Regions from separate parts of the Homo sapiens genome. Here all the other regions are linked to region 3. The links come from fine-mapping of genetic effects on gene expression. A gene starts in region 3. Each other region holds a variant in brackets. All regions are shown on one strand. Distances are from middle to middle. Region 1 has its middle 13 kb from the start of ZNF518A. Region 2 overlaps CC2D2B (coiled-coil and C2 domain containing 2B). Region 3 holds the start of ENTPD1-AS1 (ENTPD1 antisense RNA 1).

The links. PIP is the estimated chance that this variant, and not a neighbour inherited with it, causes the effect. A credible set is the group of variants that fine-mapping cannot tell apart.
Region 1: its variant is the best candidate, but not a certain one, in a credible set for the expression of ENTPD1-AS1 in whole blood (INTERVAL, PIP 0.64).
Region 2: its variant is the best candidate, but not a certain one, in a credible set for the expression of ENTPD1-AS1 in whole blood (INTERVAL, PIP 0.86).

The regions. Positions count from the first base shown.
Region 1 is chr10:96,113,503-96,121,089 of GRCh38, reverse strand. No RefSeq gene overlaps it. Among named protein-coding and RNA genes, the nearest start is that of ZNF518A, 13 kb to the left of the region's middle. The variant T/A (reference allele first, on the strand shown) is at 3,649.
Region 2 is chr10:95,973,151-95,980,737 of GRCh38, reverse strand. CC2D2B (coiled-coil and C2 domain containing 2B) reads right to left here. Exons shown (of 35, transcript NM_001349008.3): 17 at 6,582-6,729. All of the region lies in intron 2 of ENTPD1-AS1 (ENTPD1 antisense RNA 1), which reads left to right. Among named protein-coding and RNA genes, the nearest start is that of CCNJ, 67 kb to the left of the region's middle. The variant T/C (reference allele first, on the strand shown) is at 4,344.
Region 3 is chr10:96,086,224-96,093,810 of GRCh38, reverse strand. It overlaps ENTPD1-AS1 (ENTPD1 antisense RNA 1), which reads left to right and starts at 3,576. Exons shown (of 6, transcript NR_038444.1): 1 at 3,576-3,829; 2 at 4,504-4,545. RefSeq lists enhancers at 3,427-3,476, 3,487-3,856.

The sequences.
Region 1 (7,587 bases), 27 kb before region 3:
CACCTGTTATAGGAGTGCATGCAAGTGTGTTAATGGAAGAAAAGCAGTATTGGAACAGATAAAGGCTAAACATGTTTCTGAATTGGAGAAAACACAAGATTCCTCTGGGGTGGGCGGCAGGGATGGCAGGGAGGTGGGGATAGTTAATGGGTACAAAAAAAATTGTGAGAAAGAATGAACAAGACCTAGTATTTGATAGCACAACAGGAGGACTATAGTCAATAATAACTTAACTGTACATTTTAAAATAACTAAAAGAGTATAATTGGATTGGTTGTAACACAAAGGAAAATGCTTGAGGAGATGGACACCCCAATTTCCATGATGTAATTATGAATTGCATGCCTGTATCAAAATATATACATGTACTATGTTCCCACAAAAATTAAAAATTAAAAAAAGAATAAATTGTAACAAAAAACATAAAAAGAAAAGAATCCCCATTTGAAAATGTGCTACAAGCACTGGGTAGGATAAATAAAAACATACCTGGATACACCATAGTAAAATTACCAAAATAAAAAAAGTAAAGAGAATTCTTTTTTAAGTCACCAGCAAGAAAAGACAGATTAAATACAAAAGAATTAGACTAAAAACAGAATTTTTCAATACCTCATAAATATTATAAGACAACATCATAATTTTTTTAAGTGGTGAGAGAAGATGACTGTATATAGGATATCAAAGCTAGCTGAACTATTGTTATAAGGGCAATTTTAAAGATATTTGCCATCACATTTAAAGAGTAAGTAAATTTACCTCCAAATATTCTCTGCAAAGGAATATTAAATAATGAACTTCAGCCAGAAGGTAAGTAAATCAAGAGGAAAAGTATAAAATATAGCAGAAATGTTGAGTTCTGAAACTTACAAAATATGTGAGACAATTAATGGATTCTTCAAGAAAACATTTTCTAATCTTCGAGAAAAGTTGAAGCTAAAATGCTATGCAACAATTACAAGGTTTAGAGTTGGTCTTGATGCTCAGTGGATAAAAGTCATGTGGTATTCAGAAGAAAGATAGAAATATTGGGTAATCACATGTTGGCTCACACCTGTAATCCCAGCACTTAGGGAGGCCGAGGCGGGTGGATTACTTGAGGTTAGGAGTTCAACCATCCTGGCCCATGTGGTGAAACCCCGTCTCTACTGAAAATACAAAAATTAGCCAGGCGTGGTGGCACACACCTGTAATCCCAGCTACTTGGGAAGCTGAGGCGGTAGAATCACTTGAACCCAGGAGGCAGAGGTTGCAGTGAGCCGAGATCAAGCCACTGTATTCCAGCCTGGGCAACAGAGCGAGACACTCTCAAAAAAAAAAATAAAATAATAAAATAAAAATTGAGTAATTACAGACATTGTTAGAAAAATTTATATGTAGTTATGTACATCAAATATTAAGGGTTCCTGTTAAAAGAACAGAAATGTATTCTATAGCTTCTAAGCCAAGAGAGGAATCAAAAGGCAATACATTTTGTTTCTCAATCCAATCTAAGGAAGGAAAAAATAAAGACACAGTGATAAAAGATGGTAAACAGAAAATGTAAATGTAAATATTATGATAAACATAAGTTCATCAATCATTTTAACACAGTAAGCTTACCTATTGAGACAGATAGATCCTCAGAATATATCTCAAAAACAAATTCCATCACTGTGTTGCTTACAAGAGAAAATAAAAAAACTATAAAGTTTGAAAGTAAAAGTTAGATAGATACACCAAGAAAATATTAAACTAATGGAAAACGGCGTTACCAAACCAAACCGGGCTAGTTTGCCTGTGCAACACAAAGCCAAACACGGAAGCACCAGGTTTTTGCAACGTGAAAGGGTTATTGTGACTGGACTGGCAAGTAGACGGGAGGAGGAAACACTCAAACCTGTTTCCCCAAGCTGGGGGTTGGGCCAGGTTTTTGTTTTGTTTTGTTTTGTTTTTTGTTTTGTTGTTGTTTTTCAGACGGGGTCTCGCTCTGTCGCCCAGGCTGAAGTGACACTCCCAAGTAGCTGGGATTACAGGAGCATGCCACCACGCCCCGCTAATTTTTGTATTTTTTTGTAGAGCCGGGTTTCGCCACATTGTCCAGGCTGGTCTAGAACTCCAGGGTTCCAGCGATGCACCCACCGCGGCTTCCCAAAGTGCTGAGATTACAGGCATGAGTCCCCAGCGCCCAGCCTGGGTCGGGTTTTTTTAAGTATAGGATAATGAGAGGTGATCCGATTGGATCTTGCAATGAGTTGCTGCTGGGGGTCATGATGTCAGTGGTGTCTGCTTCTTAATTTAGTCCCTGTTCCTTGGTCTGAGCATTTAGGTTCCACCAGTGGTTGCACACTTGGTTCATCTGCGCATGCTCAGGTTACATGACTTTGAACCTGGGAGGTCCATAGCAACTGAAAAGCAATTCACAACCTCGTTACATAAAAGTTGAACCCAATTGGTCTGGTTCAGTTACAATAGGTTAAAAATACTAGTATGAGTCCAAAATATCATTTAAAGACAAAAGCTTTAATAAGGATTGAAAATAGTCACTGCATAGTAATAATAAAAGGAGCTATTAATGAATAAGGTATCATAATCCTCAACTTATAATTAACAATATAAGATTGGAATTTATAAAGTAAAATCTAACAAAAGAAAAAAATTGAGACATCTACAATCATAGAGGAAGATTTTAATACACCTTTTTTAGAAACTGATAGGGCAAGCAGATTAAAAAATTTGTGAGGATATAGAAGATTTCAACAACAAAATCAGTAAGCTTAAACTAATTTATATACTCCTGCACTTAAGCTGACAATAGATAAATGGAATATTTACAAAACTTGAACACTTTTTTTCAACACCTTTCCTAGAATCAACACCATGCAAACTAGAGATTGTAAAACTAGGACAAAATAACAATATAGAAAGAGTTGTGTCTTATTTCATATAGTATTGAAATATTAGTGACGATGGGTGTTTTCTTTAAAATTTCCAAGATTAATAAAAGTTTTAAAATAGAAAAGCTAAATATTAAGCACATTTCAAACATAACTTGAAAACATATAAAACAGCATTGCAAAACACATTTTTTTTTTTTTTTTTTTTTTTTTGAGACGGAGTCTCGCTCTGTCGCCCAGGCTGGAGTGCAGTGGCGCGATCTCGGCTCACTGCAAGCTCCGCCTCCCGGGTTCACGCCATTCTCCTGCCTCAGCCTCCCAAGTAGCTGGGACTACAGGCGCCCGCCACTACGCCCGGCTAATTTTTTGTATTTTTAGTAGAGACGGGGTTTCACCGTTTTAGCCGGGATGGTCTCGATCTCCTGACCTCGTGATCCGCCCGCCTCGGCCTCCCAAAGTGCTGGGATTACAGGCGTGAGCCACCGCGCCCGGCCTGCAAAACACATTTTTAAACATGCCTATCACTCAAATAAAATTTTTAAAGCAATAACTAAAAATAACACATTAAAAATACTGAAGCACTACCCCAAAATGGATAAAAGTTTATTTAAAATGAAAGGTAAAAAATGAAGTAATATTTGATGATTTTTAAAAAATGCAATCTTCAAAACAAAGTGTGTGTCAATGGTGTGTCAACGGTAACATCCTTGAGTTGCAAATACATTTTGTGTACATTTATTCTGGCTGTTTCTTCTCTCTTTTTTTTTTTTTT[T/A]AAAAAAACCCTCGTATCCTAGGACCAGCTATTTCTTCTTGTGTCTATTTTATTGTTATATTTTCCTAGATTTTGTCCAGTTTTTCTTAAATGGCAAATTTACTGACAATACAATTTAATCATTTTCCCATCTGTAGGATATATTTTGATATCCCCTTATACATTGCTGATATTATTTGTGATTTCTCTGTCTTTCAAAATCATTATCCCAGAGATATTTCTTTTTCTTTTTTTTTCTTTAAGTCATTTTAAATAACCAAGCTTTTGGGTAAGTTGATCTTCTATATTTAATATTTGTTTTCTATTTTATTCACTTCTGCTATTTATATTATTTCTTCTTTGTATATCCTTTGGTTTAATTTGTTACTTGGTACCTAGTTTCTTGACAGGAATCTCTAACTGATTTCAGTCATTCTCCTTTCTTACACATGCAAAGTTATAAATTTCCCTCCAACACTACTTTAGCTATATCCTACAGTTTTTGATTTGCAGTATTTTAATTAACATTGAATTCAAACTATTTTTAAATTTCCATCGTGATTTCTTTTTAACATGGGCTACTTTGATATGTATGGTTTAATTTCTAAACACATGGTGTTTCTTTCCTTTTCCTCTTCTACTGTTTACTTCTGTGTGTTGTTTTTGTATTGATCTCAAACTCAGTTCCCTTGTGATCAGGAAACATGTATTCCACAATTTCAATTCTTTGAACTGTATTGAGATTTGTTTTATAGCCTTGGATATGGTCAATATTTATAAATATTTCACGTGCTCTTGAAAAGAATGTGTATTCCATGGTAATGGGTATAGTGTTCTGTGCATGTCTCTTAGGTGCATTTAAATCATTGTTTTTACTCCTATATCTTCATTGATTTTCAAAAATTTTTTGTCTGTTTATTTTTTCACTTACTGAGAGAAGTATCTTTAAAACTCCCAGTATGATTGTTGATGTGTCTCTTTTTCCTTGTTGTTCTGTTATTTTGCTTTATGTGTTTTGAGACAATGTTATTTATGCACATATAATTTTAAAATTATTATATCTTCCTGATAAATTAGTTTTATCTTAATGAAATAGGGCTGTATTTCTAGTCAGACATTTTTTTCTTGAATTTTACTTTATCTGAGAGTGATATATATCTATACCAGGTCTCTTTAAGTTAGTGTTTACATGACATGACCTTTTATCTTTAAGCTTTTCTTTCATTACAGTTTGTCTCTTACAAACAGCAGATCATAGTTTCTCTTCCTAAGAAAACGGTTTGCTCCTAGCTGGACAATACAGATCATTTATACTTAATATAATTAGGTAGGGATATATGTGAACTTAAATCTACTATCTATTTTTTTGTTTTTTCTACCTCTTCCACGATCATTTTTCTCCTTTTCTTTTCTTCTTTTGGATTGATTAGATGTTTTATTATTCCTTTTATCAGTTTTGTAGTAATCTCTTCTTTACTTGTCTTTAAGTGCTTTATTATAGTTTATATTATTTACCCATGGCTTATTAATATCTAATGTACATCAGTACTTTTTCTTTTTTCTTGTCAATGAAGAGAACATTTTAACTCAGTTTAATCCCATCTTTCATACTTTATGTGCTATTGTTCACAAATTTTAATTTTCTCTCTATCATAAGCCCCAATAGACATTGTTATTACTGCTTTACATAGACATAATTGCATAATTGATTCAGATTTACTTCTACATGCTTTCCTAATATCTTGCAACTCCAAGCTTCCATCTGGGATCCTTTCTCTTCTGCTTGCGGGGGTGAGGGGGGAAACACTTGATCTTTTAGTGTAGGTTTGCTGGTGATAAAGCTTTTTGTTTGTGTTTTCTTGAAATGTACTTATTTCACCTTCATTACTGAAAGATAGTTTCGTTTGTTATGGAATTCTAGGTTGGCAGTTATTCTCTTGTACCACATTGAAGATAACTTTATGGTGCCTCTGACTTTCATTGTTTCTCTTGAGGAGTCACAGCTATCTATTCAATTTTTGTTCTGTTGAAGATAATATGTGTTTTTTATCTTTATATGAACAGAATTTTGCTTTTAAAAATTTCCCTGTCTTTGATTTTAGCAGTTTGGTTCTTATGTCATTTCATATATTTATCCTTCATGTTGTTTTTCAGAGAAAAACCCCCTCGGTTTTGGAAAAAAATTATGTTATTAGCTATTTATAGCTGCATTTAAAAATTACCTTCAAAGCTTAGCAGGTAAAACCAATAAACATTTATTATCAAGCTGGGCACTGTGATGTATGCCTGTAGTCCCAGCTGCTCAGAAGGCTGGGGCAGGAAGATCGCTGAGCCTAGGAGTTCAAGGCCAGCCTGGGCAACATATACTCCGTCTCTTAAAAAAATAAAAATACATTTATTATCTCATAGCATTTATGTTGGAGGGACCTAGAAGCAGCTTAGCTAGGTGTTTCTGACACAGAGTCTCACATGAGATAGCAGTCAAGATGCTTGCTAAGACTGCAGTCATTTAAAGGCTTGACTAAGGTTGAAGATCCACTTCTAGGGTGTCTGATTCAGTGCTGACTATTAGCAGGTGGTCTCAATGCAATGTCACATGGACTTCTCCGTTGGGCTGGTTGAGTATACTCCTAGCATGGCAGTTGATTTCTACCAAAGCAAGTGATCTAAAAGAACACAAGATGGAAGCCACATTGTCCTTTATTATATTGTCTCAGAAGTATGAGTTACAGAGGCCAGCTGTATTCAGAATGAGAGGGGACTACCCAAGAGTTTAATACCAAGAAACAAAAATCACTGGAGGTCATCTTGGTGGGTAGCTACCACATTCCACCTTCTCTAACCCAATTATTCATGTCCCTCTCATATGAAAAAATAGTCACCCTCAAAAGTTTTAATCCATTACAGCACGAGCTCAAAGTACAAAACTTTATATTGGGTCCAGATATGGGTAAGTCTTCTTGGGTGTAGTTCTTTCATAAAAGCTCAAGTATGGTTCCTTTCAATCTGAAGTCATATGAACTAAAGTGACAAGTTATTAGTGTCTCCCATGTCAAACAGTATGGTGGCACAGGCAAAGGATAACTGCTATAGATGCTCCTGTTTAAAAGGATGGGGGAAGTCCACAGCAAATCTGAAATTCACCTGGACAAATTTTTAAAGTCCTTGATCGGAATTCACTGCTAATCCTGCACAGGAACAATTCTCCATATCTCTTGGCTCTACCATCTGGGCTCTTGATTCTTTTCTTTGAGTTATTCTTCCTTTTTCATGAAACACTATCATTGGTTTTGGTTGCATGATTTTCTTGGCCTATTTCATGCCTATAAATGTTTCCAAATCCAAGGACTTATTTTCCTTTTTGCTATTTCTGACCCATTAAGTCCAAGCTAGTGGTGTTTCCACCAATATAAGTATCTTTAAAACTTTGTGGGTATTCTGTGAAAGTTCTTGGATTTACTCTACTAAGCAAAAGCCACACCCACAAATCTCATTGAAGTGATCCCTTTTCTACACTGGGCTTCCACTGATGCTGCTGGGGACAGCACACCTAAGAGTCACATAACCTTTATTCTCTGATTAAAAGTATCTAAAGTATCACCTTGGATCCTTCTGAGATCTTTAAAAGGATTTTACAGGCACACTCTCAGCTTCATCTGTTAGACCAGGTTTTTCTCAAAGTGCCTTAAATTTGACTTTTGTCTGGAAGCCATTTGTTAATTTCAGCATTCTGTGTCATTTGGAGAGGCTGAGAATGTTCAAATCCAGTGATTTCTGGCTTCTCTCACTCAACTTTTTAAAAACAGTTCTATTTTTTGCTTATTCTCGCCTTTCACATTTTACTATAAGCAAAATGAAGAATCAAGGAGGCACACAATACTTTGCCTGAAAATTCTTTTTAGCTAGATCACGTAGCTCATCTGGTATGTTTGCTACTTTCCATGTTACTGCAGGTACTAG
Region 2 (7,587 bases), 110 kb after region 3:
GATTCTTCTGAGGCTATTGCTGCAAAAGCCAATGTGTGGTATGGTAAGATGTAAGGAAAATTACGAACAGGTGAAGTTTGCATATTCTTCTTTTCTTTTGCTTCCCATGTCTGCCCTCATTTTGAACTGTTTTGATATCTATGTCATAAGAGATCGCTAGGACCTGACACCCTTTACACCATCATGTAATAAATTTTCCTTCTTGAAACAGTCTTAGCCCAGATCACCTAGAAGACAGCCTCAGGTAAAGCTTAAATCTTAACGAATAGATTAGAAACTTTTCCCGTTATATCCTTTAACAACAACAACAACAACAACAACAAACAACAAAGAAAGTTGTAATTGAATTTCAACATAGTCCCATGGTTTCTGCCTCAGAGAAAGTAATACAAATCTCAGAGCCTTGCTACAATGATTCCCCCAGCTGCTCCTATACACGTTTAGCTGTAGGCTATGGCTCACAGCAGTGCTGTTCTTGGGTCAAAACCAGTCAAATGATTGAAGATTTTTCCCTCCCTCCTTCCCTCCCTCCCTCCCTTCCTCTCTTCCTTCCTTCCTTCCTCCTCCCTCCCTCTTCTTTTCGATTGAAGATTTCTACTTTGGTGATGGAGAGCTGGAAGCAGTACTTTATAAAAGGCATGGGAAACTCTTTGGTTGTTGTCTATCTAATGCAGCCCTGACATTTACATCTTGTTTCTGACAAAAGAATCAAAGTATAGCATGGCCCCAAGAAAGAGGCGAGCTTTAATTCTAGCAGGCCCCAAGACCTTGGCTTATACACCCAAATGCAAGGCCACAGCCACCACATTTGTAAATTGAGGTAAAATATACATAACATTTACCACTTTATTTTAAAATACACAATTCAGTGGCATTAAGTACACTCACAATGTTGTGCAACCATCACCACCATCCATTTCCAGATTGTAATGATGGTTGTACAAGCCTGTGAATATATTAAAACCATTGCATTGCATGTTTTAATTGGCTGAATTTTATGGTTTGTGAGTTGTATCTCAATAAAGATGTTAAAAAATAGTTAAAAATATAACTGTGCTGAGAGCTAAGATAAACATTCCTGTGAACCAGAAATGGAAAAGAAAGGCAGAGTGGTGAGTGGGGATAGCACTGTGGGCTTGCTGGGCTTCAGGCCTAGGAGCAGTCCATGGTGGTTGTGGGCTCAGTTCCTGAGACAGGGAACTAGCACCAGGCTTATCATTTTAAGCCAAAGATCTGGGGGGAACTTTACTTAGATAAAGAGACCTTTAAAAAAATACTGACCACTGCATGGGGCCATGGCTTTTAGAAAGCTATGAGTCTAGAGAGGGAAAAGGACACAGACACTGCCCCATAATGAGGAACTGAACCAGGCTCACAGCTCACCAGATACCTAGATCTGTGATGACTCCAGTAGCAACCCAGTATAACAACCCAATCTCCCAACCTATCCAGTAAGTAGGCTTACAGCCCACTTCTGGATTTAGGAGGACAGATGAAGTCAAATTCAGAACCATTAGGTAAGGAGGGGTAGATACAGAAGGAGAGAGAGGAAAAAAAAAAAAAAACACCAAAAACCCAGAAACGTATAAATCAAAATCACCCAAAAGTTCTTCAAGTCAAAATGACACTGCTAACCAAAACTTCTGAGCAAAGAAGCCATGCTCAGAAAAATAATCAACAGTTATCAACTATCAGAACATAAATTAATTCTAGTTGAAATTCATTTTATGAAAGTCTGCCAAACACATTTTAATGAAGTATGCTTACGATGTAAAAGCAAATGAAAACTAATAATTCACTTTTAAATGCAAGAAATAATGGAACAAAATGCCAAAATGAAATAAGAAAATGTAGATATGAAAGAGAATCAAACAGAAAACTTGGCAGCAGAAAATAAAAGTAAAAATTATAACATAAAAATCAAATAAACCTTATACTGGACAAAGTTGAATAATGAATTAAGGAACTAAAAAATAGTACGCAGAAATTCACCCAGGATGCAGATGAAATAAAAACATAAAAATGTGAAATAATAGGTAAGAGATGTGGCTAATAGGCTGAGGCTTGGCTGGGCTCAGTGGCTTAGGCCTGTAATCCTAGCACTTTGTGAGGCCAAGGTGAAAGGATCACTTGAGCCCAGGAGTTTATCAGCCTGGGCAACATAGCAAGACCTCCTCATCTCTTAAAAAGAAAACAAAGAAAGCAAGAAAAAAATTAGCTGGATGTGGTGGCACCTGCCTACAGTCTCAGCTACTCGGGAGGCTGAGGCAGGAGAGTTGTTGAGCCCTGGAGTTTGAGGCTGCTATGATTACACCACTACATTCCAGCCTGAGTGACAGAGTGAGACCCTGTCTCAAAAATAAATAAATGAATAATAGACCAAGAGGCTCCAATACAAATTCAATAAGAAATCCTGAAGGAGAGAAGAGTGGGAATGGGGAAGAAGTAATATTTGAAGAAATAGTGGCTGAGAAGTTTCTGTAATTGATGAAAGATGTGAGGCTTTAAACATGAAATTTATTCTGCTAAGCAGGAAGAAGAATAATGATAAATCCACACATATACAGTATAGTAAAATTTCAGTACTTTAAGGATAAAGCAAAATTTTTTTCATGGCTCAAATGGCAGTTTCTTCCTTTTTTATTAAGGTTAAAGATACATAATATAAAATTTACCACCATTTTAAAGTGTATGATTCAGTAGTATTACGTATACTCACGGTACTGTATAACCATCATCATTACCTATTTCCAGAATTTTTTTCTTCATCCCAAACTGAAACTCTGTACACATTAAAAAATAACTCCTCATTTCTCCCTTCCCCATCCCTGGTAACCTTTATTCCACTTTCTGTCTCTGAATTAAAGTGAAATATTTCAATATTATCAGAGAGAAAAGATAGCCTATAAAAGCCCAACATTTAGACCAATAGCAGACTTATAAATAGCAATGATAAATCCCACAAGATAATGCAGTACTGTAACAGCTTCAAAGTGCTAAAGGGAAATAAATAACATCCTCAAATTTTCTACTCACCTAAACTATTAAGAATGAGGGCAAAATAAAGACACTTTTAGATCTAGAAAGGCTAAAGAATTTTGCTATCCATAGAAACTAACTGAAAGAATCATTAAAGGAGCATGCTTTCAGCATGAAAAGTAAATCGAGAATGAAGGATGGGAAATAAGAAATAAGGTAAACATAAAAGTCAATGAACTATGTTAAAAATTTCATTAACTAGTGTGTGTAAGAAAAACTGTTTCATGTTTAAAAATGAAAACTCTAGACAACGATCATTTAGGTTAGAGAGGTGTGGTGTTTTTTTTGTTTGTTTGTTTTTGGTTTTCTGATTTGTTTGTTTATTGAGACAGAGTCTCACTCTGTCACCAGGCTGGAGTGCAATGGCATGATCTTGGCTCACTGCAATCACCGCTTCCCAGGTTCAAGCGATTCTCCTGCCTCAGCCTCCTGGGTAGCTGGGACTACATGCGTGTGCCACCATGTCCAGCTAATTTTTGTATTTTTAGTAGAGATGGGGTTCCACTCCACCATGTTGGCCAGGCTGGTCTCAAACTCCTGACTTCAGGTGATCTGCCCACCTTGGCCTCCAAAGTGCTGGGATTACACGGTGAGCCACCACGCCCAGCTGGAGAGGTGTGTTTAATGTGGTATTAAAGCACTAAAGCTGGGCTGGGTGCGGTGGCTCATGCCTGTAATCCCAACACTTTGGGAGGTGGAGCCAGGCGGATCACCTGAGTTCAGCAGTTTGACACTAGCCTGACCAACATGGAGAGACCCCGTCTCTACTAAAAATACCAAAAATTAGCTGAGCTTGGTAGCGCATGCCTGTAATCCCAGCTACTCTGGAGGCTGAGGCAGGAGAACTGCTTGAACCAGGGAGGCAGAGGTTGCAGTGAGCCGAGATTGCACCATTGCACTCCAGCCTGGGCAACAAGAGCGAAGCTCTGTCTTAAACAAAAAAAAGCATCAAAGCTTTCTGAGACTCTCTTTCGGTTCACTACTTTATCTACAGTTCAGTCAGTGTTTGATGAATGAGTAAGTGAATGAATGAGTAACAAAACTGCCTTTCAGTTCTCCTTTGGCTTCATTCTCTGACTTCCACAAGTCAGTCCTGCCCTCTGGAGCACCCATCCCAATTCCTAGAACCTACTGCTCAGAGCCAGTCCTTGAGCTGCCACAACAAAACTGTGGGAAAGTTCTGTAACTTCCTCTAATTGTAAAGTTTGACTTAGAGAGGGCCCTGGACTTTGAAAACCTCTTTTGCAATTTACTTCCTGCTGAAACCTGTCATCTGTCCCACTCTTGCATGTAACTGTTTTCAA[T/C]CTTTTGTAAGCTTGAGTTTCCAAGTAATAGGAATTGTAAGACAACGGAGACAAGCCAATGAATATGGCTTGAAGGTCACTTGCTGGTAACCTTCAGTGACAAGTGGGTAGGATTAGGAAGGGAATGGGTGAGCAGAAAGTGGAGGGAATGTATGCAGACCAGTAGGCCACACATAGGAGAACTCTGGCAGGAAAAATCTAGCCAAAATGGGCTTCAGGATTTAATCAGGTGCTTGAGTTTTTGCTTGTTTGTTTTAAAACAAAGAAGGCTTTTGGGTACAAAAGACCAACAGCCTAGGGAGATGGACAAGTTGAATGGAAGAAAAAGATATAAATGCGTCTGTAGAATTGTAAAAGAGAGTTGCAAATTACCTGCATAAAAGTTAGCCTCAGAGTGAGGAGGACAAACATCTCACTCCAAGAAAAATGCAAACAATATTATGATGAGGCAAAGATTAGGAATAGCTGCTGTGGAGACTATGCTAGAGAAATATTAAGAAATATAACAAAATAATAGTTCTAGGTATTAAACACTTTTCCACTGGCTCCAAAATGAATTACCTTTAATAACTGTAAGATTTGCTCTTAAAATGACCTTCTCCAGGTCTCTAAGAAGATGACCTCATTTACTTAGCAAAACAAGGACATCCATCAAAGTTCCATTTCTGTTTTCATAGTGATGACTGTCCCATTCCCTGAGTTGAGGAAGAGAGAGTTTCTCTTCTCCAGAACCACAGTTATTCACTTGGGTTCTGGTTTGATACCTTCCTGACTCTGAAGGACCTTATACTCTTTCCAATATATTGGGTCTTTTTCCCCACTGATTTCAATCTTTTGTAAGCTCATCACTTTTAATCACTTCTTTTAAGAAGATAAATATGGCCCCAATTTTTAAGAAATCTGTACCTTGATTCTTTTGTCTTCTGTTATTTTTTAGCATTTTTTTATTGTCAAACTCCTTGGTAAGTAAACTACCCCCACTATGTCAGTTTCGTCCATACCAACGATCTCCTTGTGCTACTGCCATTTAGCTTTTTTCTCTTTGTTTCTTATGTACCGAAGAAAAGCATTTATGAACTCTTACTATGACTCTGGCCATATGCTACTGGTTTTTATATATAATGTTCTCCCTGTTCTTTTTTAAACAGTCTCTAATTTCAGTTTTGATTTTCCATTTAATCCAGTTATGTATAACAATTTTCAAAACTATAATATTTTTAAAACATAATTTTTTAGAGAAGTTTTAGATTTGCAGCAAAATTGAACAAAAGGCACAGAGAGTTCCCATGTACCCCATCCCCATAAACATGCACAGCCTCCCCAGCTGTTAACATCCCTCGCTGGAGTGGTACCTTTTTTTACAATCCATGAACCTACATTGACACATCATTGTCACTCAAAGTCCATAGTTTACATTAGGGTTCACCCTTGGTCTTGTAAATTCTGTAGGTTTTGACAACTGTGTAATGACATGTATCCACCATTATAATGTTATGCAAAATAGTTTCACTACTCTAAAAATCCCGTGTGCTCCAACTATTCATTCTTATCTCCCCCTAGAACCTCTGGCAACCACTGATCTTTCTACTGTCTCCACAGTTTTGCCCTTTCTAGAATGCCATAAGTTATATGAAGCTTTTCATTTCCGTTTATTTTTAAAAATATGTGTTAAGATGTGGAGGGGAGAGGATATCTTTTTGTTATCATTGTTCATTATTTTAAATGATGAAATAAACTTTTTCCTTTATATTTACCATTTCCCTCAAACATAGCACATTATGGAAGCCAGCATTATCATCATTTTCATAGAATTTACTGTACTTATTTCTAGTAATCCCACAAATAATTAATCTGAAAATTAACCCCAACCCTTCTGGGAACTCCCAGAATGATGATAATGCATAAATGATTCTTTGCTAATCCAGAATGACTGGGAGATATACAGGCCCCAGAAATAAAGTCCCTGGGAGTCTTGACCTTTGCCTACAAGTGAGGGACTCTGGGAATGCCTCTCTCATCATCTGTGTGGCTATAATTCCAAGCACTGAAGGGACACATTCTCTTACATATAAATACACATACTGCCTTAGTAGAGTGATTTAAATAAAAGATAAATCAACATTCAAATAGACTAAACTCTTCCTATTGCTGCTCAAGTTTTCTCTTTTACACATAATATGTTTTGTGTGATGCTTTGCTGAGACCTGGCATTATTTTTCAAAGATAAAAGTTTATTACCTGCAGTAAGAAGATCTTAATGATTGTGGCATAGGTATCAGAGGAAGACCATTTTCATCTAAGCTCCATGATAGAGAATAGCTAAGTTTTCCTGATGTCAAAAGACAGAGTTCTTCAGTTCCATTTCCCTCAAGAAGAAAAGGCACATCTGTTTATAAAAGGCATTAAAAACATATGAATTGTTTTAAGTGCAGTTGAAGCACATTGTGGGTTTTTTCCTGAGTTTTACTTGTGGAACTCTAGGAACACAAAGGAAGATCTGTGCTAACCCCACTCTTTTTTTTTTTTTTTTTTTGAGACAGAGTTTTGCTCTTGATGCCCAGGCTGGAGTAAAGTGGGGCAATCTCAGCTCCCTGCAACCTCCACCTCCTGGGTTCAAATGATTCTCCTGCCTCAGGCTCCCAAGTAGCTGGGATTACAGGTGTCAACCACCATGCCTGGCTAATTTTTTGTATTTTTTAGTAGAGATGGGGTTTTACCATGTTGGCCAGGCTGGTCTCGAACTCCTGACCTGAGGTGATCCACCTGCCTGGGCCTCCCAAAGTGCTAGGATTACAGGTGTGAGCCACCACGCCCGGCCCTAACTCCACTCTTATCTTAGTGCTCTCCCTCATCTCCTCTCTAAGATCCTTCAAGGACTACAAAAGAGAAGGTAAAGATTGAGATGAATATGTAGAGATGAATATCATGATTTTCTTCCTTTCATGCCTGGAGGCTTCTTAACCATTCTCTGTGGGAGTGGCTTCCAGCAAGAAAGGACCATTGGCAGCAGAAAAAGAGGCCAGCAAGCTGTTCTTTCTCCTCTTTCCTTACATTCCCAAGTCTTCTGCATCTAATCTCCAAAGAGTTTAACAATACTTCTTAAAACTTTTGCTGAGTGCACAGTGTTCCCTAAATTTTTTGAGTCCTGAGTCTTTTGTCCCGGGTCTCCATAAGCTTATTTTTCTGCTTCATCTGGACTTGAAGCAAACTCCGTTCTTCCCTCGTTCTCTGCCCATTTCCCCCC
Region 3 (7,587 bases):
GAACGTTTGTGTGCCCGTCAAATTCATATGGTAAAGCCCTAACCCCCGCTGTGGCTATATCTGGAGATGGGGCCTCTAAGGAAGTAATTAAGATGAAATGAGGTCATAAGGGTGGGTCCCTGATCTGACAGAATTAGTGTCTTATAAGAAGATACACCAGAAAGTTCTCTCTCTTTCTCTTCCACGCCTCTTCATCTCGAGTATGTACCGAGGAAAGGCCATATGAGGATATTGTGAGAAGGCAGCCAGCTGCAACCCAGGAAGAATGCCCCTCACCAGAAAGCAAATTGGTCAAAACCCTGGTTTTGAACTTTGAGCTTCCAGGACAGTGAGAAAATAAATCTCTGTGTGTAAGCCACTCAGTCTATGGTATTTTGGCTGTGTCAACAGACTAATACACACTCCAAAAAAAGAGTGTGTAGAAATTTTTGTTTCAGCGTCATTTTCAAATTGTCCTCTGCTAAAATCTACTTTAATCCCGGCATGGTCATAAGCTGGTTTTACACTCTAGACCTGCTTGAAACTTAAACTTGGCTCACTCTCACGGGTGATTTTTAGGTTCGTTGGATGCTGCAACTCCTATGACACACAGAATGATCAAACATGGATTCCTGGGACTTGGGACTTTTGGTACTAAAGCAGGGAAAGTCCAAGGGCACTGGACAAGTTGGTCACTCTAGATAGGCAATACATTCTGTTCCTCCAGCTATTGCTCCATCTACAGCTATGGCTTCTCTAACAATCCATACCATACAGATTCTCTCCATACACAAGAGTCAAAAAGGTCTCAGGCCAACTTTCTCTTTTTTTCACGTGGCCCACATCTGCTGCACGAGAAACACTCAGGCATCATTTGCCTTGACAAACTACGGCAGTGACTACAGATCCCAACATAGCAACTTTCCTTCACTCCTATGCCAAAATTCTCACTGGCCCATCTCTCCTACCCCTGGGATTTCCCAGATGTGAGTCACGATACTACTGTACCTCTCAAAACCCAGGAAATGCATGTCAAGTTCTCTGAGTATTGCTATTGAAGCCCCCTTCACTAGACTTGAAGGTGACTGGGGAAGCATATAACAATGGCTCTCCCCAAAACTTCTCCTCATAAACTCATCTCTTTCAACATCTTCTTTTAACCCATGAAACTGGTGAAAGGTTCCAATAGCGGCAAAACCAGTTCTTGGACTGTGGCTGCCAATACAGGGAGCAAAACTGATCAAGGGCTCTAGATGCTTGCTGCACTCTGAATTCCCTGGCCACATTTTCACCCATGGGCTGCTCCAGCCGGTGACTGAGAGCAGCACAGATAATAAGGCAGGCTGGCTCCTGAAAGAAGGACTCCTCTGACAGGTGATTTTGGCTTGAGGATTTCCAATAGCCTTTCTAAATCTTGCTTAGACTGTTTGGCAGTCCAGGAAACTTCCACCACCCTTCCCTCTCTCTCTGCTTTACTCAATTTCAGACTTGCAGCCTCTCCCAGTCTTGCTTGGCTCCCGCCCATTCTCTCTCACAGGTGTTTCCTCTAATAAAATTGTTGCACATTTAATCCCATCATAACAACTTCTCATCAGAGCCAGACTAATGTAAAGACATTTCTTTGGAAAACATGCATCTTGTCAGCACCTCACTTTGGCGTTTCATAGTTGTTGCTTTATAATGCTGCAGGCAAAACTTCCAGTTTATAGTTATACTACTAACCACAGGATGAATGAATGACATGGTAAGATAAAAAAACAGGAAAAATGATGGGATTTTACTTTACATTTCTTGTTGTTCAACCCCTCCATTTTTGTTAAAATATATGTCTAATTTGAATGCGCATCAAGATGAATTTTTAGTAAGACTTATCACTGTGGGTGCTGAGTATGTGAGCAGGAACATCATAGATGCTAATTTACCTTTTAGTAGGCAACCAGGCCTGTGCCAGGACTTGGATAAGAAGGCTGTTACATGCTACCCTGGAGTTCCAAAGTAACCCCAATATCACCATCTGTCTTTGTTCCTCCACATTTTCTTCTTCCCGTGATCCCTTCTCATTTTTCCTTTCTATCTTCTTTTACTTGTTTTGTCACTGCTTTAGAAGTCACTAATAAGCAATAGTGGGAAGTAGAGTATGTGAATAAAGAATGAAGCTTTCTTTGGCAGTCTGAAATAAATTGCTTAAAACTGTACCCCAAAGCAGCCAGAATAAAAATAGCTTTTTATATTTGTTCTCCACCATTTCAAGTATCCAAACGCCCCACATGACTTGACCCCTGCAACTTTGTTTTAGGGAAGACTTTTGGTGGTAGCATACTCTCATACGAAAGTGTGTGAAAAACATCAATTTGCTTTTTTACTTTTCCTGTGAGGATTATAGAACCAAAACAAAATATCGAAAATTTTGAGAATACACTGACTCACAAAAATCCAATGCTTTTCTAGTCAAACAGGATTTCTCTACGTGATTTGTATCAAGGACGGTCATTTATCAAAATGTGACAACATGCCTTTGCCGTCATTATAACAGCAGGCAATTAAAAATGTTTTTACCATAGCCAGTTTGCTTATTTTTCTATTTTAAAAGGGTTTTATAGCAGATATGCAAAAGAGAAAGCAGAGAGAAAAAAATAAAATCACTCTCTATTCAAACACTATCACTGTTAATTTTGATGTATTTCTTGTGTTTTTCTAGGCATAATTTGTTTTTACAAAAACATAGCCTTAGTGGCTAGTCCCACTTTATTATGTGAGTACTGGTCAATGCAGAAAGAAGACTAAACAAACTACAGATTGGTTTTCAGTCATATTCTAAAGAAACAGAAGCCAAACAAACACTTGGTCTGGTGGAAAGTCCAAGATTATGGTCCTTGGCCCTCTGTTAAGGCCAGCTAGAGTATCTGGTGATGGTGAGAGGCCTCCAACTGTCTTAGTCCTGGATTTAAAAGGGCCTAAACGGAGCTAAAATGTTCCCCAGAGCCTAGCAATCATTGACAGTTTCCTCAGGTAACCAGCGCTGCAGACGGAGAATGCTGCAAAGGCAAGGTGTCAGAAACCAATTGAAATCCGAGGTTCAGCCAAGGGGACCCAGGCACACACGTGGGCCTTGTGTTCACCATAAAGAGCATACTGGCTACAAGTTGGCCCCTCTCTGGGCAACAGAGTGCCTAACTTAAAGGGGCTTACGAGGATGCCATGCGCCAACAGCTCTGGTTTTACAAAATGGAGTCACCAGGGAGAACGCGGTGTCTGGGTTAGACCACGTTCACCAAGTACCAGCTATACGATCTCGGACAAATTTACTTGCCCTCTCTTAACCTTAGTTTCCCCATATATAAAATGTAAGTGATACATTTCTGACTGCTGGGATTGTAAGGAAGGGATTAAATGGCTTGCCAATGAGGTGTTCAGCACAATGCCTGCCTAACACGTAAAACGTGTTGGGGTTGGTTGGTTGTAAGACCCACAACCTCTCTCCCCACTCTACCCCCGCCCCGCCACCAGCAGCCCAGCTGCAGCCGCTTCCGGGAACCACTTCGCTTCGGTCTCCCACTGCCGAACGCGGATCCCTCCGCGTTGCGTCACTTCCGGGAGACTCTGGCCGCGGCGATTCAATATATCCGGAAGCAACTGTCATGGCTGCTGTCAGTGAGGGCCCGTAATGGAGATCGAGTCAAGGGTTGCCCAGGGACACTTAAGAGCCTTCGGCTTCAAGGAGGCCTCTCAAAGGACAAAGGATGAGACTGCCTGGCGGCAGAGTGCCCCCCACAATCGTAGGAACTGTGTCGCCGCGCTTCCCGTTAACTTGCCGCTAAGTTTTTCTAGAAAAGTCGCCCTTCTTGCCAGGGTGGGACCTCACTTCTGACCTAGCCCTTCTTTGTGTACCAAGTTTTTGTTTCCGTCATTTCCCGCAGCCCGGGAGCTCGGCGGGCGATACTGTGGTAGCCTGGGAGGAAGGGGCGGGCCGGATGCTGGAACCGAGAGAGGTGGGGCTCGTCGAGGAGTCACGGGCGGCCGAGGCTGGAGTCTCCTAAATGCAACCTTGAGCTGTTCCACCCTTTGGTGCTTGGTCTGTTAGCTCGAGGTGCTCCTCACCGTGGAGGCGTTTAGAGCTGGTCATAAGGCTCTTACCTGCTGACCCAACCACCCTCAACCACAGCTTGCCCTGCTCCAGATAGACTTTGATCCTAGAAAATATCTAAGATGGGTGTAGTGCAGTATGTTATTGTTTTAAGTCTCAAACATAAGCAAACTATTATTAAAAGTTTTAGAATTAATAGGCAGAGTTCACATATTGGGTCGTGTTATTGTTTTAAGGTTTAAATTTAGATAACATGTTAGTACTTGTTGAGATTTTAACAAAAGCATTAAAAAAATGAGAAAATAGATTAATCTTTAGAATATTTTAAGTTTGCTACTGCGCAGTGGTAACATGAAGACACCTCATAATAAGTCTTTGATTACCAGAAGCTTCTGAAAGTAAAATTATGGGTATATTAATGTGAGTTTTCCTCTCTGCAGGGTGTCCTATAGACTTTGTCATGGAGTGAAACAGAAACAAATGTGAGTTAATCATTAACATTTCCTAGTGGTTAAAATTACTTTTTAAGCGCTTAACTGTGTATTTTTTAGATTGAAGATTTCAAATGAAATTTTGATTTGACTGAAATATTTAATATGTGATGAGTTGATATTAAAATACAGAAGATTACTATTTTTATAGAAACAATAATGTAGAAACTAATATTTGAAGCAGGTTTACTCCACATACTGTGTTATAATTTAAATTTTCACTTAAACTCTCAAAATCAGAAGAGCTGACCTAGTAAGGCTTAAACCTCTAAAACTTGTGGTTTTAACAAGGCTTAATATACGTAGTTATAATAGTTTTTAAAAAAATTGTTATCAAGTTCCTCAGGTGATTCTGATATAGTATTTTAAAGAAAGCAAAGAGAAATGATCTGTTTATACATTTTAAATATTTTGTTCCTTATTTATGTATTGAGACTGTGCTTATAAATGCATTCACACGCATTGAAGTACATAATTTGATCGTCATGCCAGCCTGGAATCTTGCTTTTTGTATGGTTTCTTGCAGGTAGGTCTATTGGGTTCTTGGCATAGTACCTGGACAAAACATTGTTAAGGTGGAAATTTTCATTGTATTTATCACTTCAAACACTTGACCAGTTTATTTAGTTTTCAAGCGCTTTAGACAACTATATGTGGGCTTGACTTAGTGTATAATAAATGTAAAGTTTGATCTCAAGTAGTTGACATTTATGGAGTATTTACCATATGCCAATCTTTGTGATAATTGCTAGACATATTTTATTTAATGCTTACAGCAGTACTGTGAGTTAGGTTTGTTAAATCCCTGTTTTAATAGATGGAGAAACTGAGGCAAGGACGGATTAAGTTACAAATCCGTCTTTGTAACTTAGAGCCATCTTCTTACCTACTTGTTTTGTATGACACCCTTTTCCTCCATATAACTGAACACTGGTAGAAGAGTGAATGACTGTAGAAAACAGACCTGGACTCTATTCTACCTGTCCAGCTTTGTAAACTAGGGCAAGTTGTGTGACCACTCTGAATTTCATTTTCCTCACCTATAATAAATGAAAACTTTGAACTATTATGTTTTATTGAATCTTGAATCATCAGAAATCCTTAAGGCTGGGTGTGGTGCTTCACGCCTGTAATCCCACCACTTTGGGAGGCCCAGATGGGAGGATTGCTTGAGGCCAGGAGTTTGAGACCAGCCTGGTCAGTCAGCATAGCGATATCCCATCTCTACCACAAAAAAAAAAAAAAAAATTCCTTAAAATGGTGCCTTTACCATCAAACCTGGGATTTTCTTCCAAGCCCCTAGTGCTCATTCTGAGTTTTGAAGTTTTGATGCACGGCAGTGCCAACTCCATCTCCATTGCCGTCTAGTCTGATTACATTGTAAGATGTGACTGATTTCAGAGATGTCAAAATGTAAAATAATGTGCATCTTGGAACTAATGAGCTCTTTTTCAACCCTGACTCTGTAACATCTGTGACTTTTTAACATTTTATTGCAGGATTAAGTATTTTTGAATGTAAATGATTCAAGATAACACATAGACTTCGTTTGATGACATCTGCAAAATAAATTTTTAAAAAATTTGGGCTTCATGATAATGGAAAAGTAGAAACTATGTTTGTCTTTATCACCTGTGAATCCCCCATATTGAGAACATGCCTGGCACATAGTGAGTGTTCAGTAATCATTTACTCAATGAAGTAAACAAGTCTTCATTTCTTTTTTCTTTGTTTGAGACAATCTCACTCTGTTGCTCATGCTGGAGTGCAGTGACGCTATCTTGGCTCACTGCAACCTCTGCCTCCAAGGCTCAAGTGATCCTCCCGCCTCAGCCTCCCAAGTAGCTAGGACTACAGGCACACACCACCGCACCAGTTAATTTTTGAATTTTTTTGTAGAGACAGGGTCTTACCATATTTCCCAGGCTGGTCTTGAACTTCTGGGCTCAAGCCATCTGCCTGCCTCAGCTTCCAAAGTTCTAGGATTACAGGCATCAGCCACTGTGCCCTGCCACGTCTTCATTTCATATTACAAATACAATATTAAAAAATTGTGTTTGACTTGAATTAGACATAAAATACACAGTCATGCATCGCTTAATGACAGGGATACATTCTGAGAAATGTGTTGGGTGATTTTGTTATTGTGCGTGTACTTACATAAATCTACATGGTATGGGCTACTACATATCTGTATGGTATGGCGTATTGCTCCTAGGTTACAAACCTGTATAGCATGTTACTGTACTGGATACCATAGGTGGTTGTAACACAATGGTATTTGCATATGTAAACATGTCTAGACATAGAAAAGGTACAGTAAAAATATTATAACTTTATGGGACCGTCAGTGAAATGTCATTATGTAGCACATGACTGCAATAGTATTAATAGTGTAAAACTATTTTGCACTGAAATTTTTTGCATTCAGAAGTTCACTGTTGTAAACTGTCTTTCTTTCCAAATATCTTTTCTTCTGCTGATTATTGCTGATTGTCATCAAGTATGGGGTATATTTTGTTCCTCGAAGAGTTATAGTAAAAATTGAAATGCTGGCTTATAGACTTTCCAACAAAGAATCTGATTTATTTTTAAAGTGGCCAAAGTATAGGAACATTATTTAATTTTTAGAAATCTTGATTGTAAAAAAAGTTTTAAAAATGTGATTTGATAGCTTATTTAATTTTTGTGAGTATTCTGGAGGTGATTAGGCATACTATCTTTCCTAGTATACAAATAATATTGAATATTTCTGAGTTATGAACAATAAAAATAAACTACAATTGAAATTATGTCATAATTGAAATTATGTCAGTGGGCAGAAAAGTGTTCCAAGTTTTTGGGTGGGCAAGTGTAAGAATAATGTTAACAGGAGAAATTATTCCAACCGTAATTATGGATGTCTAATAGTCTGTACTTTCGGTTAGAACCAGGAAGGTGGCACAGGAATAATTATAGAGTTGTAGACTGTTCTCTGTAGATAATCAGCTGAGTTTTGTGCTGTGGCCAGAAAAGCCAGTGTGTGAGGTATCA